Regions from separate parts of the Homo sapiens genome. Here region 1 is linked to region 2. The links come from fine-mapping of genetic effects on gene expression. A gene starts in region 2. The other region holds a variant in brackets. All regions are shown on one strand. Distances are between the middles of the regions.

The links. PIP is the estimated chance that this variant, and not a neighbour inherited with it, causes the effect.
Region 1: its variant is the best candidate, but not a certain one, in a credible set for the expression of TESC in monocytes (TOPMed, PIP 0.60).

What each region holds. Positions count from the first base shown.
Region 1 is chr12:116,960,257-116,965,626 of GRCh38, reverse strand. It overlaps FBXW8 (F-box and WD repeat domain containing 8), which reads right to left. Exons shown (of 11, transcript NM_153348.3): 5 at 773-930. Among named protein-coding and RNA genes, the nearest start is that of FBXW8, 52 kb to the right of the region's middle. The variant C/T (reference allele first, on the strand shown) is at 2,583.
Region 2 is chr12:117,097,120-117,102,489 of GRCh38, reverse strand. It overlaps TESC (tescalcin), which reads left to right and starts at 3,074. Exons shown (of 8, transcript NM_017899.4): 1 at 3,074-3,265. The coding sequence starts at 3,208. It overlaps TESC-AS1 (TESC antisense RNA 1), which reads right to left and starts at 3,023. Exons shown (of 3, transcript NR_120464.1): 1 at 2,846-3,023; 2 at 1,850-2,037. RefSeq lists silencers at 1,858-2,075, 2,942-3,080, 2,819-3,338, 3,399-3,508, 3,579-3,678.

The sequences.
Region 1 (5,370 bases), 140 kb after region 2:
ATGACATGAACACTTAACATTCTGAAATATGCTGTGGTCCCAACTTTTGGGCAAGTGGGGACATGAAGCTTGTGGAGATTCAACACTTCACAACATAACGGAGGATAGGAGCATGACAGGTGGGCATACTGGATATCATGGCCATTGAAATGACCATTTCTAGTAGTTATACGCTGTCAAGAGTTTCTTTGCATAGATAAAGCTAACTTTAGACTATTCGTACCTAGTTCCAAAAATCCATAGTTGTTCATGTACAAAAAGAATTCTATCAATGTCAAAGAGAAAACATATTATTACCAATTATCTGGTATGGTATATTAAGTGACAGGAAAAGGTAGGCACTGACTTTTATTTTTCTATAACTACATTTATCAATAGATGACCTATGTCTATCCCCTTTTCACTATTCCCTTTGGGCTGAGCAGAGGCTAAAGGAAAAGTAGGCCAAGTATATTTAATATTTTACATCAAACAAGTTATTTGCTTAAGATGCTTTGGCCAGCCTTGTGTCTGGCACTAGCGCCCAGCCTGACAGTTCCAGTAGGAATTAAACACCAGTTTTAATGGGTGCTGTGTTCCAATGCCTACTAATGCATTGACGGTTGTTGGCCAACTTCTTCAAATAAAAGCAAGAGTGAGTGTATGTGTGTGAACATGTGTGTGTGCCCACGTGTACATATGGAGGGATTACAGGGGGGAGCCGGCCACAGCTGCTTAATTTTTGTAAAGCTTTTTTTTTTCCTTAATAGGGAGGAGGGTTGTGGTTACTTACCATCCTCATAAGCTGCTACTGCCAACGAGCTGTTTATCCTCACAAAGGAGACATTTGGCTGCATTCCAGGCTCATCCTCCTCGTCCTCTGATTCCAGGAAGGGGGCTACGTAGTCCCAGGTGCGGGTGTCCCACACTCTCACATCCCCTGATGTATATCTGGAAGAGAACGACACACTTGGTTCCAAAAGGAGATTGAAGAGCAGGGCTATGGTGGGGAAAATGCACAGAGCCTTACAACAACAGACAAGTAAGAATCGGGTGGTGTAGAGCCACTGCTGAGGCACTGTTTAGATGAGTGACTCCAACAGGAGAAAATGTCAACTAGATGACAGAAGGCTGTGAACACGCTTCACATTCTCACAGCACAATGGTGACAATTTCAAATGAGAAAACAATAATAAGACATGGGTAGCAAGATCTCCTTGCTTTTCCTTTTACACTATTACAACAATCTGCTCCTGCAAGCTCTCCCACTACAGGGATCACTTGCAGAAATTTGTATAAGCCCCACTATTTACCCACAAACGCACACACTCACTCACAGGAAAGACAGAGAGAGATGCTGCAGGGATACTCAGAACTAATGGTCTCACAGGCACAGGCTTTCTAATACCTCATCCATGCATCAGATTTGACTGATTAAAGTCCCTGAAGACTAATTGATTTGCTGAAACAATTAAATCTTGCCTTTAGCAGCCAGACAGTGCTGCCTGCTCATGAAAAGCTCTTGCTGAATGCGCGACACTGCCCGGTTTTGCCCACTTAGAAAATAGAAGTACTCACTCTCTCCTATGACTAGTGCCACTCCAACAAATGACTGCTTCCATCAAAGCCAGGCCAGGCCGAACCTACTCAGACTTGAGGCCCCCAGGATGACAGAATGGCCAGATGATAAAGTGGGGTGCTGCCCATCACCAAGGTATTTAAGCTATGTTGCTTATGTCTGCTGCAGAGGGTTTTACTCCACTTGTACAGCAACTGAGTGTTATGGGGGGAAAAGTGGTGAGAAATGCCTTTAAGGGCCTCATGATAGAACCACACAATCACAAAGATAGGCCAATGATTTTAAGGGGGTTCATAGTCTTCCTGAGGCCCTAGCCATAGTTCCTGCAGGGTTTCTTTGCCGAGTTGATGAGATAACCTCTGAGATTCACTGAGTCACTGAAATCTATGATGTGACACATTAGTGAAGTAGCTATAGAAGACCAATCTGGAATTTCTTGGTTTTTGTTTTCTTTTGTTTGTTTTTGAGACAGGGTCTCACTCTGTTGCCCAGGCTAGAGTTCAGTGGCACAATTTCGGCTCACTGCAACCTCCGTCTCCCAGGTTCAAGCAATTCTTCTGCCTCAGCCTCCCAAGTAGCTGGGATTATAGGCGTGCACCACCATGTCCGGCTAGTTTGTTTTTTTAGTTTTTAGTAGAGATGGGGTTTTCCCCCAGCTGGTCTTGAACTCCTGGCCTCAAGTGATCCACCCACGTCGGCCTCCAAAAGTGTTGGGATTACAGGTGTGAGCCACCACAGCTGGCCTCAGGTGGAATTTCTTATAGAGAAGTACTCTGATTCAGGAGTGCTTTGTTTACTAGTAGTACTGCACCCAAATTCTTAATCTACAGTAAATACATATATTGCACAGTCCAAAGGCCATTCTGTCACCCCAATTCCTTGGTTGGAGAACTTGGCTCTCTACCTGCAGGGTGGCACCCAGAGAGTGCGCATGTGGGATAAAGAGCCAAACGGGAGAGACGTGCTTTCTGAACCTGGCCTGCTGTACCTCTGGGTTGACCACTGATCCTCCAGTAAACAGAAA[C/T]ACAAGATGAATGTCCTTAAGCCCAGCGACGTGCAAGCAAGGGCAGATCCTGAGATCACCCCAGCCAAAGCACGGCCACTGGCCCCCAGGCTCTCCAAGCAGCGGTCAGCTCACCCTTCTCAATGAGGAACCCTATACCAGAACACATACCCTGGAGCTCACTGCCCTCAAAATACCGGGCTCAGTGTGACACCCTGAGAACGACTCAGGCCATTTGCTGGAGTAAGGCCACTTGCTTAGCTACAGAGACACAACAGATGAGACATGTTTGAATGTCTAGACTGGGGGACTAGATTCTTAAGGTTAAATTCTATGTGACAGGAACCAGCCAATTCAGGAAAGATGAGAAGGATGGCAACGTCTTTCAGAAATACACAGATGGTAAGTGAAAGAAAGATAAAGGGAATTCAGATCAGAAAAGTAAGGCACGTTCAGAAAAAGAAGTACATAAACTAGGAAACTGTATTTCCTTCTTGCCAGTCTCTGTCCTTCTGCTTCCTGCTAACCATGTGTCACACCACACCAGCAGTCTGCACACTGTTTTCAGTGGTGCCCCCCCAGGGGACACAGTGGGGAGGCGAGGGTGGAGAGGAAAGACGGTTTAGGTGGCCTCAGCTCCAGCCCCCCAGCTCCCTGAACACAAAGAGTTCGGAGCCAAAATGACAGCAAAACAACAAAGCTTGGGAAAAAGGTACTTTAGCTGCTGAACCAGACAATAGTGAGCTGTGAAACAGAAACTGTTGAGCCCGCTCCTTACTCAGAGAAAGAGAAGAGAGTGAGGGCAGGAACCCCACAGATAACAGCACTCTATTCATATCTGAGGGGCTCCTGGGCAAGCCTTTCTCCCACAGAGGAGGTTGGTCCACTCACACTGTGACTCCACACGTCTAAAATCAAATGCTTCAGCTCATGGCCAAGCTAGCCTGTGTCTGAATTCCTTATTTTTATCAATGGGATCATCAGTCCCAGGTCACTGGTACAGAAGGAGAGGGGCCCCTTCAACACCGCTGTGGCCCACTACCCGCACCACTATAGATGCTCAGGTGCCAAGCTTGTTCTGTTCTGCTCATTCCCAGAGAAGCCACCCTGGTCCAAATCCCCCAACACCTCACATTCACACCCGACTACTACAGGCTCCCTGATTCGGAGCTTCTTCCATTCAATCCTCCCCCCACAAGCCAAGCCCTTCAAAACACCTGACTGCATGAATCTTTCTTCTGGAACCATTTCCTTTACTTCCTTTCTCCCTCACATGCCACACTACACCGCACTACGATCTACCTTCACGGCAGCCTGGACGTCTCCGTCATGGCAGTGGTGCATGTCTGTGATCATCTCACTGTTCATCTCCCTACCAGCCTGAAGCTTCTGAGCTCAGGGTCTGGGTTTTGTTCATAGCTGTGCATGCAATGACTGGAACAGACAGACTAGAACAGCGCTTGCCATATACCCAGAGAACCCTCTATAAAGTCTTACATCTTAACACCTTATTGAATGAAATTTTAATTATGAGACCTACTGAAAACCCACCACAAACTAACTTCCACCCCTCTCCCCAGCCTCATTTTCTACTCTCCCTTCACACGGGCCGGCTTCCAGAGAGGATCCCAAATGCTCTTGCCTCTGAACTCTGATTCTCTGCCCCACCTTGCTGCAGTACCTCACCTCCTCACCTCCCAGCCCAGTGGGGTCCAGCCTGGGCTGCACATTAAATTTGCCTGGAATGCTTTAAAAAGTGCAGATACAGGCCGGGCACGGTGGCTCATGCCTGTAATCCCAGCACTTTGGGAGGCTGAGGGCAGGGGCAGATCACCTGAGGTCAGGAGGTTGAGACCAGCCTGGCCAACAGGGTGAAACCTCGTCTCTACTAAAAATGCAAAAATTAGCCAGGTGTGGTGGTGCGTGCCTGTAATCCCACCTACTTGGGAGGCTGAGGCAGAAGAATCGCTTGAACTGGGAGGTGGAGGTTGCAGTGAGCCGAGATTGTGCCACTGCATTCCAGCCTCCCAGACCAAATAAATCTGACCATTTGGGGATAGAACCAGGCATCAATGTTTTCAATATACAGCCAAGATTGAGAATCACCAACCCAGCCCAATCCTACCAACCCCTCAAGGTCTAACACAGGCCCTCCCCTCCCCTCCTTGAAGCCTGAAGCTTTCTGACTCAACTACTATGCCCTTTATCTGAAGAAACTGCTTTTACTAATACAGTCCTTATGCATTGATCGTCTCCTCAACTTGACTGTAAAGTCTTCAAGAAGGCCCTACCGCAGTGCCATAGCCTCCATCACAGTGCCTTATGCAGAGCTCATCATAAATAGTGACTGAAAGGGGGTGTCCGCAGGTAACAACCTGACTGGCTTGAGGGGTACCTCTTTATTTCCACTGCCCACTTTCCAATGGTAATGATGAGTGAAACACCCAGAATGTACACACTGATGTGCATTAGACTGCTTCCACTTATTTCCAAACTGAATAAAAACTATAAAACAGGGGATAAGCTAAATTATTTCAATAAACATGAAATTTTCCATATATCTATTTAAATTAACTTCATTCTCCATGACCAAAAGGTATGATAATAACATAAATGTTTTGCTGCAAAATGACTCAGGAGGTAAAATATAAAAGCCTCTACGTCTCCTGTATTGACAGGAACTGAGACTAAATATGCTACTGCAGCAGGTACTGCATTATGACTCAGCAGCGGGCTCTCAAATCTAACCTAAGTGAAAGCCACAATAGCATGGGAGGCAGCCTCCATGCTCATGAACTTGTGCTAAGGA
Region 2 (5,370 bases):
GTGGGTGCCACTGCAGGGGCCCCCACAGAGACATCTGTCCACCAAGAATTTGGCTTTGCTGTATCCCTTCGGGACCACAGTTGGGGACAGTCCTGGACTTCCTGAAGCTCAGCTTTAGGGATGACAGAGTCTCTCCAGGGGCCCATTCTGGTTTGAACATTCCATCTCTCTGTGGGCTCCATCACGTCAGCCCTTGTTTACCCATCTGCTTTGTCACTGCCCGTGTGTCTGTCTCCTCACCCCACCAGGAGTTCTTCAGGAGCGAAGGTGGCATCTTATTCCTGGCTGTGGCTCCAGGACCTAGCAAGAGCCCTGAACATAGTAGGTGCTCAATAAATGTGCAATGAATAAATGATTGAACGAATGCATAAATTGTGCCTTGGTTTTTTCTGCCTTCGTGCTGCTCCAAGGATCTCCTGATTACTTCTCCAAGCCCTGCTATTAGGAATAAATCCTCCTCTGTCATCCTCAGCAAGACTTCCCGCCTCCCAGCTCCCTGCTGACTGGTGGTGGTGGCTTGTTTGGCTGTGGACCCAGGAGAGGGGATGAGGACTCTGAGAAGGCCTCCCTGAGGATGTGAGTTTCCACTGAGGTCTGAAGAGGAAGCGGGAGTGCAAGAGAGTTTCAGGCAAAAGGAACAAGTACAAGTGCTTGTCTAGTAGCTAACAGCGGTCAGTGGGTCAGGGTAGACAGGTGATCGGGTAGGACAGACTCCCTTCATACTAGATACCAGGGGCTTCCTTGAGATCACCAAGGGACAATGTGAAGCCATGTGCCCTTCTCCTTGTCCCAGGGCTTTTGTCCCCACCAGAGCAACTGTGCCAAGCAGGAGGGGCTGATGTCCAGAGAATGCCACTTCCTATCCCCCACATCAGACAGTTCCATCATTTAATCCTTGACTAGTTTAATATAATAAAATTCCAGGAACTGACATTTTAAGTTGGAATAAAATTGCTCCCAGCAGCTGTACGTAATGGGCTGGCTCAGCGGCTCAGAACTCCCAGGGGTATTGGGGATCCTTTCCTGATCCCAGAGGCCTGCCTGTTTCCAGAATCCTTTAAACCAAAATGCAGTCCCTAGGTCAGCTGTCCTGCCGGCTCAGATCAGCTGATGACCCACAGCCAACATCTTTCCACCTTGATCAGGTCTTGCACTGCCCTCTGGAGAGTGCTTTAAAATGCAGATTGCAGGTGCTGCCTTAGCTCTACGAGTGCAGACAGGCAGTGGAAGAGGAAGCTGGATTTTCCATTTTAGAGACAGGGTCTCGTTCTGTTGCCTGGGCTGGAGTGCAGTGGTGCAATCAGAGCTCACTGCAGCCTCTAACTCCTGAGCTCAAGCGATCCTTCTGCCTCATCCTCCCAAGTAGCTGGGACTTCAGACGCACACCATTGTGCCCAGCTCATTTTTAAAAAGTTTTAATTGCTGGTAGAGCTGGGGTCTTGCTATGTTGCCCAGGCTGGTCTCAAACTCCTGGGCTCAATCCTCCTGTCTCAGCCTCCCAAAGTGGTGAGATTACAGACATGAGCCACTGCACCTGGCCAAAAGCTGGATTTGCAACCAGGAAGGGGCTGATTCTGATGCTCTAGGAGGTTTTAGGACCAACTCCCACCCTCTACCTCGGGCTCTGAAAGTCACCTCCTGCCCCTGGAAAGGGCTGTGACCCTTGGCTTGAGCCTGTAGTCTGCAGGAATGAACAGCAGTTCTCAGCAGCCCCCTTCCCAGCAGCCTGTGAAACTGATGGAGGTAGGTCCACCCGAGTCCCCTCTGTGGGCACCGAAAAACTCCTGCCCCCTACCCTGTCCCCCTTCCTCCCCAACATTTATCATCGAGACTAACGTTCAGAACAGACCTGATACCTGACGGTCATTGATGGTGGTGTCACTAAGCACTGCAGAGCCTTCAGGAGAGCCTTGACCTTGATGTTCTGCCCTGGCTGTGTGCCTCTCCAGGGGACAAGATTCCATAGCGCCCACCAGCCTCTGTGGCCATGTGCTGTGTCCACGCCAGGCCCTCTGGTGGACATCTCATTAACTTATCCTTATTTTAAGGAGGAGGAATCACATTACACAGGCAACAGCATCGGCCCCAGTCACCCCAACTGGATGGAGAGCCAACCCCTCAAGCCATCTTAACCCAGAACTTCCCTAATGGGCATGGGGACCACCGGCATTGCCTTCTCTCCAGCAGTTTGTCCCAAATGCAGCCTCCTGGGCCCACTTCTGCAGTTGTTTTTTTGTTTGTTTGTTTTTTGAGACAGAGTCTTGCTCTGTCGCCCAGGCTGGAGTGCAGTGGCAAGATCTCAGCTCACTGCAACCTCTGCCTCCCAGGTGCAAGTGATTCTCCTGCCTCAGCCTCCGGAGTAGCTGGGATTACAGGCATGTGCCACCGCGCCTGGCTAATTTTTGTGTTTTTAGTAGAGACGGGGTTTCACCATGTTGGCCAGGCTGGTCTCGAACTCATGAGCTCAAGTGATCCGCCCGCCTTGGCCTCCCAAAGTGCTGGGATTACAGGCGTGAGCCATGCGCCCAGCCCGCTCCTGCAGTTTGAGGTGCCTCTCAGCCACCGGGCTGTGCAGGGCCCACACGGGCCGCCACGTGGGTGTGTTCACCTCAGAAGGTGCTGGGGCTTTCCTGGAAAAAACCAAAGCGCATGGTGCATTTTCAAATAGGATTATTATTACTGTTGTTCTCCATAGAGCTATTTCATGCTCGCTGACTTCCTTGACTATCTCAGTGGAGTTTCCCTCCTAAGATCTGGAGGATGTAAGGTGGGATGGGTTGGGAGTGGGCATAGCACCTCCCAGGGGTCCCACCCCTCCTACCCACGCCCCCAAATTTGCTCACACCTGCTTCCTTCCAGATCCAGCAGGTGTGCGGAAGGGACGAGGTACGTGAGCACTGCTGCACGAACGGGGACTCCAGAGCGGTGGGCTCCGGGGTCCCCTTCCCGGCGGTTTCCGGGCCGGGGCGGGGCGGGGCGCTCCCCTAGCCGCGCAGTGCGCGAAACCGGCGTGCGCTAGGACCGCGGCGCGCCGCCCTCCGCCGTTATATGAGGCCCCGCTCCGGCCCCACGCGGAACCCGCGGCTCCGAGCCTTCGCCGGCGTCCCGACCCGAGGCCGGACCCGAGGCCAGTCCCGCCGCTGCGCAGCCGAAGCCAGTGCGGGGCCTGAGAGGGACGCGCGCCCCGGGGCCCCCGCCGCGGGCACCATGGGCGCTGCCCACTCCGCGTCTGAGGAGGTGCGGGAGCTCGAGGGCAAGACCGGCTGTGAGTACCCGCGGGGGGCGGCGCGGGGACCGGGGCGGGACCTCCGAACGGCCACTGTTGGGGACCCCGGCCCGCCGCCGCGCTGTGTGACCTTGGGCCAGTGGCGGGCCCTCTCTGCGCCTCAGTCTCCTCCTCTTTCAAATGGGTCCCCGCTGGCCACCTCGCGGGCTGCGGCGAGGAGCTCCGCGGCGATGCTCAGTGCCGCAGCCGCTCAGCTTCGGACTGGCCCGGGAACTCCCTGGCCGGGGGACTGCGGACCGGGGAGGGAGCGGGGCCCAGGCTTCCCAAGCGCAGGGCAGGTGCCTCAGGCCGGGCGGGCAAGTCCCTCAGGCACCCCCGCTGGCGCGCGCGCCCCACACCTGAGAGTCGTTTGCATTCGTGAGCGCGAGAGCGGAAAGTTTTGAAGTCGGCGGACCTGGGTGGGAACAGGTCTCCGACGCTCCCCGGCCGGGTGACCTTAGTCGGGAGAGCCGGCGCCCGGCGCCTGCTTTCGTCCTCGCATCTGTAAAATGGGTTCAGGCAGCCTCATCCCCGCGGGTGGCTGGGAGACTTAGCGAGGCAGCGGCCGCAGAGCACTTTGCCCGGAGCCCAGCGTCCTCCCCTGAGTTCGCTGAGTCTCCCGGGACCAGCAAAGGCTGCGCGCCCCGCATCGGCCCGGAGGCGGGGAGCCCTGGGAGGCCTGGCCGAGCTGCCCGCAGGGAAATGGCGGAGAAAGCGCTTCTCTGCCCGAGTTCAGCCGGGCTGGGGACTTGGCCCTGGGTCCTGAACTCGGCATGGCCAGTTCTGCCTCTGGCTGTGGACCAGGGTGTGGACTGGAGACCGCGGGGGCCAGGTGTGTGGGCAAACCGGCTTTGGCGAGCGACAGACCGGCTGTGAACCCTGCCAGCTGCACTTCCTGGCTGTGTGACCTTGGGCTAGTCACTTTACCTCTCTGATTCTCAGCTTTCCTTCTCTGTTGTAAGAGTTCTCCTAGTACCTGGTAGACGCTCAGGAAATGGGAGCTGCAGATATTTTGGGAAAGAGCTAGCTCCTGGCACCTGCTTCAAGTGCAGAGAACCAGCGTCCAGTATTGATCACCAAGAGAGGGTGGCCCAGCTGTTTGTGTGTCAGCTGAAAAGCAACCCCTCTTGACCCCCAATCTAAATACCCCTTTCCAGGAGAACTGGATGAAAATTGCAGAAAACCATTAATAACTGGTGTGTGTATGCACGCACTTATACGTCTATATCTGTATCTCTGTGTGTGTAGAGATATAGAAATATCCAACTAAAGAAGTAAAAGGTGTGGCTCAGCATATATAATATGGTACCCTTTTTTCTGTTTTTTAAAAAAGGATCCTTTGAGCTGGAGCCGCAAAGTAAAAAGAAATAGAAAATGTAAAAAGAGGGGAAAATAAGAGTATACATTTGTAATTGCTATATTTGCAGACTGGAAGAATCCACCAGAAAGTACGAATGGATGCTTGGTGGGGGTTGCGGGGGGAGTGGAAGGGATGAAGGGAGAGTGAGCTTTTTCTCCGTAAACGTTTTTATATGTTCATTTTGAACTATGTTGGATATTTTACTTACTCAAAAAGTTTTATGCACTTCAATCCGAAGACTAATATGAGAGAGAAAGGAGGGATTCCTCTAGCTCTTACTTGCTTGGGTCTCCTCTGCTTTTATTATTTCTCATGTGCCCTCTCCTCGCCTCCCACTGCTTTGAATCTGGATGGGTGTCGATGGGCATTCTCTGTGGCTGGGATCCCCGTTGGAAGGGTGGGCTCTCCGGCAGCCCACGGGGCACTCGGGAATTCCACCTGGTTGTGGGTTTGACAGGGAGGAGGGGCTGCAGAGCATGCTGGGAGTCTTGTCAGTTTCCTGGGTCCAGCCTCCCACTGGGATGACAGATGCTGTGTTCCTGCTCTGTAACCTTCCTAGATGTAGCTGCAGCGGCTTCCCTTCTTGCTGCCCAGAGCTCAGACTTCATAACCCAAGGGAGATGGAGAGGGTCGGAGAGGAGGTTCTGAGGTTAGACTAGAGTAGGCAGGTGGAACTTTAGGTAGGTGGAAAGTTGCCCCCAGTCCTCCGAAAGGGACTGCGTAATTCGGTCACTTTTGCCCACTT